Homo sapiens: one gene and its partner. The protein of the gene in region 2 purifies or fractionates together with the protein of the main gene of each other region. This does not show direct contact. Each region holds a gene or a part of one and is shown on either strand. Other genes may lie near its edges.

Region 1 (3,576 bases), on a different chromosome or scaffold from region 2:
CCCTTTGGGGCCCAACTCAGATCCCTCCTTCTTGGTAAAAAGCCAGTTCAGACTGAAGCAATCCCTTCTATTAACCACATTAATTATTACTGCAATTAATCTCACAATACCTTGAGGCTCCGAGTGCTGAGAGGATTTTGCCTTTTGTTATAGTGATGGAAAGGATGCATTTCAATATGTTGCCTTGCAGTGCAAACCTTTGTTAACAGGGCAAAAATAGCACAGGGGGCAGGAATTACATTCCTGGATGTGCATTTGGCTTATTTACATGGATTTGGGTGCCCTCTAAGGACACCATCTTCTCTCCCCTCCAAGAGGGTCAGGCCACAGGACATCCATGTTCTTGGCCTCCCATGGGAGAGGGTCTCTCGCCAGAGGAAGGGAAAGCCAAGTGGCCACAGAGTTCCAGCCTGTCCCTGTGACAGCCCCTGCCTCTGGCCAGACATCCACCCACCCTTGCTAAGTCAGCCTGCTCTGGGGCTACTAGGCCCAGTCCTTGCTGTCTGTCGGAGACAGACCATGAAGTGCAGTGTGTGGAGGGCTGGGACATAGCATACCGAATTACCCCAGGGAGCTTGGAAAACATCTCTTCCCACTCTCTGTTAGGCCCACGGCTTCCTCTACTGGAGGAGACGGCATGTGAGGATGGAACTCGGTCATTCCTCTGTCACCACCGATGTGAACAGTCTGGAATCCTGCACACAGGAGACTGACGATCCCTGAGCAACCTTTAGTAGCTCCTACCATTGGGCATTTTCTTGGTACAGATCACAAATAAGAGACATCATAGAAAATGTTATTCTTTTATTATTTCAAGGAGGTAATACATAGCCCAATATGGCAAAGCAAAAGGGAATTAGAGGCAGCAAATGGCCAGGTTTTTCTAAGCGCCTCATGCTGCATCTCTGAGCTCCTGTCTGCCCGCAGCCCACAGCTGCTTACATGAAGGCCAGGTCAGTAGACAGATGGCCCAACTTGATACTCCACTGACTGAGAAAGGGCTCAATGTGCAGCACAGCAGAGGCACTGCCAGGACCCAGCACGCTGGGCGGCACCCCACGCTGCCACCACCAGCTACAGAGGCTAGTGCCTTAGTAGCAGCCAGTGTGTCTAGCACTTGATTTTATTCCTGTGAGCCTAGAGTGGGCAGGACGTGAATAAATCCTGAGTCATAAGTTAAGGTGAAAGACTTAGTAGTGTTAATACTCTTGGTGAGAAAAGACAACACAGTCTTGGAGGAGAGTGGGCTTGGAGTCTGGTGGAAGAAAGATAGAAACCCCCAGAAGGGCCTCGGCCTGCAGGCACTGCCTTGAGGCCATCAGAGGGGGTTTTCACGGTACATGATAGGGAGGAGTGAGGCAGGTGGGCACTGGAGGGCTGTTTCCTCTGGCACAGTTGAACTAGAGGGTCACTTTCCACTCATAATTGGTTTCCTAGGTCTAAGTCACCACACCTGGGGCTGAAGCAAGTCTTGCCTGTGCACCAAGCGTGGCCTTGGACCCTGGAGAGATGCAAGGCTCAGTTCTCCAGTGTTGAAGTGGAAGGACTCCCAACTGAAGGAGATCTTTCTCTCCCCACCTCCAGCTCTTTTCCCTTACAAATGACCAGGGTGCAAGTCGAGAGGCAGAGGCACCTCCTGGTGCAACTCCACCACAGTCTTACAGAGAACTCATCTTGGTGGGACCCAAAGCCCAGCCTTGGCATGAAGCAGACTTATTCCACCCATCGGAGGGCACCCAGTCTGGTGACTGAATGGTGGCGTGCAAGTGGGAGTCAGCAGTGGCTCTGGATGCCGTAATACTCAGATGCCATTCATCTCTGTGTGATCGTCCTGGCTGGAGAGCTGGTGAGGAGGGACTGCTTCCTCCTGGCATGCACTGTTCACCAACCACACCACGTGGGCTGATAGATTTTTGGTTTGACAGGTGTGGAAAGAATTTTTAAAACCAGCCACTGTGTTCTCCAAACCCAGAGCCATTGGTTTTGTTTGACAAGAAAGTACCAAGAGAACCACAGCTCCACTGAGGCTAAGGCTTGTGTAGCACAGAATGCAGTATGTATTGAAACGTATAAACCTTGTCTGACTGGGGAGATGGGTGAGCAAAGAGCTGCCGGGACCCAGGTCCTCTAGTCGGTTGCAGGCTCTGCCGATGTCTCATCCTTAAGCTCCTCAAAACCTGGGACTGGCTTCTGTAGAAAGTATGTAGTGGCCTGGATCACCTTGTCTGGTCCAATGTTGTACACTGGGTGAGTGGGCTGCTGCAAAGAGAAGAAAAGGTGCCAGTTAATCACCCCGGTGGTCCTTGAAAACATAACACATCCTTTGCTCCATGAAAGGCACTTCTAAGAATTTAGTATAAGGAATCAGAGATACACACAAAGCCCAAAGGTTCAAAAATGGTGTATTTGCTAAAACTATCTAGTACATGGGACACAGGTTAATATACAGCCATTATAAACACGCATTTAAATATTTAACGATACAGGCAAATACTTACAACATATTATGTGAGAAAACAGTATGTACAATACTATCTCAAACTGTTTTTTTTTTTTTTTTTTTTTTTTTGAGAGAGTCTTGCTCTGTTGCCCAGGCTGGAGTGCATTGACACGATCTTAGCTCACTGCAACCTCTGCCTCCTGTGTTCAAGCAATTCTCCTGCCTCAGCCTCCTGAGTAGCTGGGATTACAGGTGTGAGCCACCACGCCTGGGTAATTTTTGTATTTTTTTTTTTTTTTTTTGAGACGGAGTCTCTCGCTCTGTCGCCCAGGCTGGAGTGCAGTGGCGGGATCTCGGCTCACTGCAAGCTCCGCCTCCCGGGTTCACGCCATTCTCCTGCCTCAGCCTCCCAAGTAGCTGGGACTACAGGCGCCCGCCACTACGCCCGGCTAATTTTTTGTATTTTTAGTAGAGACGGGGTTTCACCGTTTTAGCCGGGATGGTCTCGATCTCCTGACCTCGTGATCCGCCCGCCTCGGCCTCCCAAAGTGCTGGGATTATTTTTGTATTTTTAGTAGAGACAGGGTTTCACCATGTTGGTCCGGCTGGTCTCGAACTCCTGACCTCAGGTGATCCACCCGCCTCGGCCTCCCAAAGTGCTGGGGTTACAGGTGTGAGCCACCACACCTGGTCTCAAACTTTTTAAAAAGTGTATTTGTACCTGTGATGTATATAAATAGCAAAAATTGTACCCATACCAAAATATTAATAGTGATATGATTGTTTTTCATTTTCTTTTTTATATTTTATGTATCCCAATTATTAAAACAATAAACATGTATTTACATTTATAATCAAGAAAAAGGGGGCCGGACGCGGTGGCTCATGCCTGTAATCCCAGCATTTTGGGAGGCCGAGGTGGATGGATCACCCGAGGTCAGGAGTTCAAGACCAGCCTGGCCAAGATGGTGAAACCCCGTCTCTACAAAAATACAAAAATTAGCCGAGCATGATGGTGAGTGTCTGTAATCCCAGCTAGTTGGGAGGCTGAAGCAGGAGAATTGCTTGAACCCGGGAGGCGGAGGTTGCAGTGAGCCAAGATTGTGCCACTGCACTCTAACCTGGGCAACAGCGAG
Region 2 (3,820 bases):
ATGCAAGAAGGTGGCCATCTCCAAATCAAGGAGAAGGGCCTTAGGGGACAACAAACCTGATGATATACTGATCTTGAATGCAATGGACTAAATGCTTACGCTCTCCCCAAATTCGTACGCTGAAATTCTAATCTCCCAGATGATGATATTAGGACATGGGGCCTTTAGGAGGTGATTAGGTACTGTTATAAAACAGATCCCAGATAGATAGCTAGTCCCTTCCACCATGTGAGGACACAGCTAGAAGGCAACATCTAGAAAGTAGGCCCTTGCCAGACATCAAGGTGCCTTGATCTTGGACTTCCCAGCCTCTAGAACTCTGACTGTATTAGTCTGTTCTCCCATTGTATAAACAAATACCTGAGACTGGGTAATTCACAAAGAAAAGAGGTTTAATTGGCTCACCATTCTGCAGGCTGTACAAAAAGCATGATGCTGATATCTGCTTGGCCTCTGAGGAGGCCTCAGGAAACTTACAATCATGGCGGAAGGTGAAGGGAAGCAGGTGTCTTACATGGCAGAAGCAGGAACTCTTAAGAGAGAGAGTGGGAAGGTACTACACACAACCAGATCTTGTGAGAACTCACTCACTATCACGAGAGCAGGACCAAGAGGATGGTACTAAACCATTCAGGCGAACCCACCCCCATGATCCAATCACCTCCCATCAGGGCCTGCCCCCAACATTGGGAATTACAATTGAACATGACATTTGGGTGAGGACACAGATCTAAACCATATCAGTGAGAAATGAATTTCTGTTACATAAAAGCTATTCGGTTTATTGTATTTTGTTATAGCAGCCCAAATGGATTAGGACACTGAATGCCCAGCCTCCAGAACTATGAGAAAATACATTTCTGTTATTTAAGTAACCCATTCTGTGGTATTTTGTTATGGCATCCTAGGCTGACCACAATAAACAACACACTCACTAATTCATCAGGCTTCTGCTGAAGGCCTACTATGGGCAAAGCACTGAGTTTAGCACTGTGGGCAGACACAAAAGCAAGTGGGAATACAACAGCTCACAATATGGTCAGGGAGAATGACAACACAAATATATCTGTCATAGAGCAGAATGCAAATATTTTGGTATAATGCTTCTATAACTCTTGTTTCAACAATGCAAATTTGTTCCAATGTGATTGACATATTAAGGAACAATCTGAGCATAATGTGAATGTTGTGTTTGCTTATCTGTAAGAAAAACTAGATGAACATAGAAAGGTTGTGCCTAGCTGAACCGGGCCACACGGAAATACACAAAATTCACATACCTCAGACATCAGTCAGCTCTCTCGGCCCACGGTGTGTTATTAGCCACACTCATCCACATTTGGAGTTAAAACTCTCCGTCTGATTTCACATGACTGTCCTCCTACCATTTCGCAATAACATACAAATGACCACACCTTCTGAGACCACCTCTTAAGCAAACTTTAGGTCATTTTCAAACTCAACTGCCATATGTGTGGTAAGATGTATACATTTCTTAACCACTTAATGTTAAAGCTGTGCTACCATTTATAATAGGTTTTTATTTTTGCTTTTATCTGACAAATTATTGAGTGTTGTTCTTCTAAACCACTTTTTCTCGATAAGCCCTATAGTTTTGAATTGCATGATTGTGTATACTGCAGTGATTTTTAGAAACATGTATGAGTAGAATTGACTATATTTAAACATTTCAATAAGGAACTAGATTTCAGGTAACTAAGGCCTGGGTAATGAATGTTTATGGTCAGGATCACAGAAAATCACATGCTTATTGGATAAACTTCAAACAGGGCATATGGATCTGGCTAATATATCAACGACAACCTCTAGTGGTAATGTATACTAATTGCAGGTAAAATACAGAAAAATGTGATGTAGTAAAAATGGATTTTTAAATGTTATCGAATGAATGAAGCTATCACACAGGCCAACTCACATATATTCCCTCACCTTTAGGCAGCTTTTTATGGCCTCCAGTTTCCTGGCCTGTTTACTAAAATAATTTTTTTTTTTTTTTTTTTTTGAGACAGAGTCTCACTCTGTCACCCAGGCTGGAGTGTAGTGGCACAATCTTGGCTCACTGCAAGCTCTGCCTCCCAGGTTCATGCCATTCTCCCACCTCAGCCTCCGGAGTAGCTGGGACCACAGGCGCCCACCACCACGCCTGGCAAATTTTTTGTTTTTGTATTTTTTGTAGAGACGGGGTTTCACCATGTTAGCCAGGATGGTCTTGATCTCCTGACCTCGTGATCCACCCGCCTCAGCCTCCCAAAGTACTGGGATTACAGGCGTGAGCCACCATGCCCAGCCAAGAATGTTTTCTAGAGTCAAACAGCCTCATAAAGGGAGCTCCACTGACCTGTCATTGAGTTTTCTGAGGTGCACAGTTGCTCTCTCAGCTTCTCCACGTCATCAGGATGCACCTGTTCATACAGTGTGCTCCCAAACCACTCTGACTGGGGCTGGTTCAGAACAGGGGTGACGGAGTCAGACACATAAATCACTCGCCCTGTCTCAGCAGCCACCACAAACAGAAATCCATCAGCTGCTTCAAGGATGAGATGCTTCAGTTCCTATAAAGAAAAGATTATGATTGGCACAATACACTGACAGACCCAGGATGATTCAACTTTCTTATTGGGAAAGCAGCCTTCAATTTCCTTTATCTGCATATTTATTCTGGTACACAAATAGTTTGGGAAATGAGAACTTTGTTTCTGGAAAATAAGCTAGAAAAATGCACAAAGCTTGCACCATCCCTACGATACAGCTACTGTAAACACGGTTAGCCCATCTTCATTAGTCCTTTGTTGGGGAGAGAAAATTTCCAGCCTAGGGGGATGGGAGAGCAATGAGTGATCACCAGAAGGTACTGGGTTGCCAGAGGCGTGAACAGCTTTGCCACATATTGAAACTGTAGTCATGTCATTGGAGCAGAAGGGCCCAACACATAGTGCTTGGCACAAAAGGTGCTAGATAGAAGGAAGGGAAGGGGAAGGGGAAGGTGAGAAGGGAGAACGAAAGAGACCACGTGTCTCCCCACCCACAGCTTGCCGTACTGAAAGTACCCTCTTGTTCCTTTTCTCTTTCCATATTTCTGAGCTGAATGCTGGCACTGGCTATAAGAGTATCCCCTTACATTTGCATTTCTGTCAGATTTCCAGAACTGACAATAATCACCATCATCTCAAAAGACTCTCAGAGTAACTCTGGGAGGCAGCAGGGAATACAGCATTATCCATATCACTTTACAGTGAGAAGAGGATAGGAGCATCAACCTTCAGCTCACATTGATTCATTGGGGTCATGACTGTCATTGAAGGCAGGGAGGAAACTGGGATCAAGGAAGGGGCAGCAGGAAGCCTTGATATTATCCTCAGAAGGACGTGGATGGGGCAAAATTAACTTTGTTAAAACAAGATGTCTTTTCTTTGCAGCGCCTGAAGGCAGCTCAAGTATAGTTGCCCATACTATTCTCACATCAAGCTAAGGAGCCCTTTGCCACTGAATGAAATGGGCTTTGTGCCTGCAGGAGCCAGGCACTAAGTCTTCCCTAGACACTGTAATCCATGGCCACCCTTCCAACCACTTCAAGTACTGTTCAGGCTCCAGAGGACAAAGGTATCCTTCTAGGTCAGCAGCTAGCAAACATCTTTTGGCTGGCAATCTTTTGTTTGAATGTAATCTTATGTGAAAACCCCACTGTAAAGCACATGGACAGCCAGCAGAGTGAAGGCAAAAGGTGGAGAGTCTGGCGCCCCAAATCCCAGTAACTGAGCAGGGTACAAGGACCCAGAGACTAGGGAACATTGATATGCTG

Evidence for each region.
Region 1: the proteins of ARNT2 (region 2) and FNTB purify together in Homo sapiens (affinity purification with mass spectrometry, with the first as the bait; one large-scale study listed by BioGRID). This does not show direct contact.

The regions. Positions count from the first base shown.
Region 1 is NC_000014.9:65,059,864-65,063,439, reverse strand, and holds the end of FNTB (protein farnesyltransferase subunit beta), read right to left. Parts: intron 2,260-3,576; coding exon 2,128-2,259; 3' UTR 790-2,127; downstream 1-789. Other genes in the region: CHURC1-FNTB protein, read right to left, coding at 2,128-2,259. UniProt on the Homo sapiens protein: Essential subunit of the farnesyltransferase complex. Catalyzes the transfer of a farnesyl moiety from farnesyl diphosphate to a cysteine at the fourth position from the C-terminus of several proteins having the C-terminal sequence Cys-aliphatic-aliphatic-X.
Region 2 is NC_000015.10:80,473,763-80,477,582, reverse strand, and holds part of ARNT2 (aryl hydrocarbon receptor nuclear translocator 2), read right to left. Parts: intron 2,574-3,820; coding exon 2,360-2,573; intron 1-2,359. UniProt on the Homo sapiens protein: Transcription factor that plays a role in the development of the hypothalamo-pituitary axis, postnatal brain growth, and visual and renal function. Specifically recognizes the xenobiotic response element (XRE).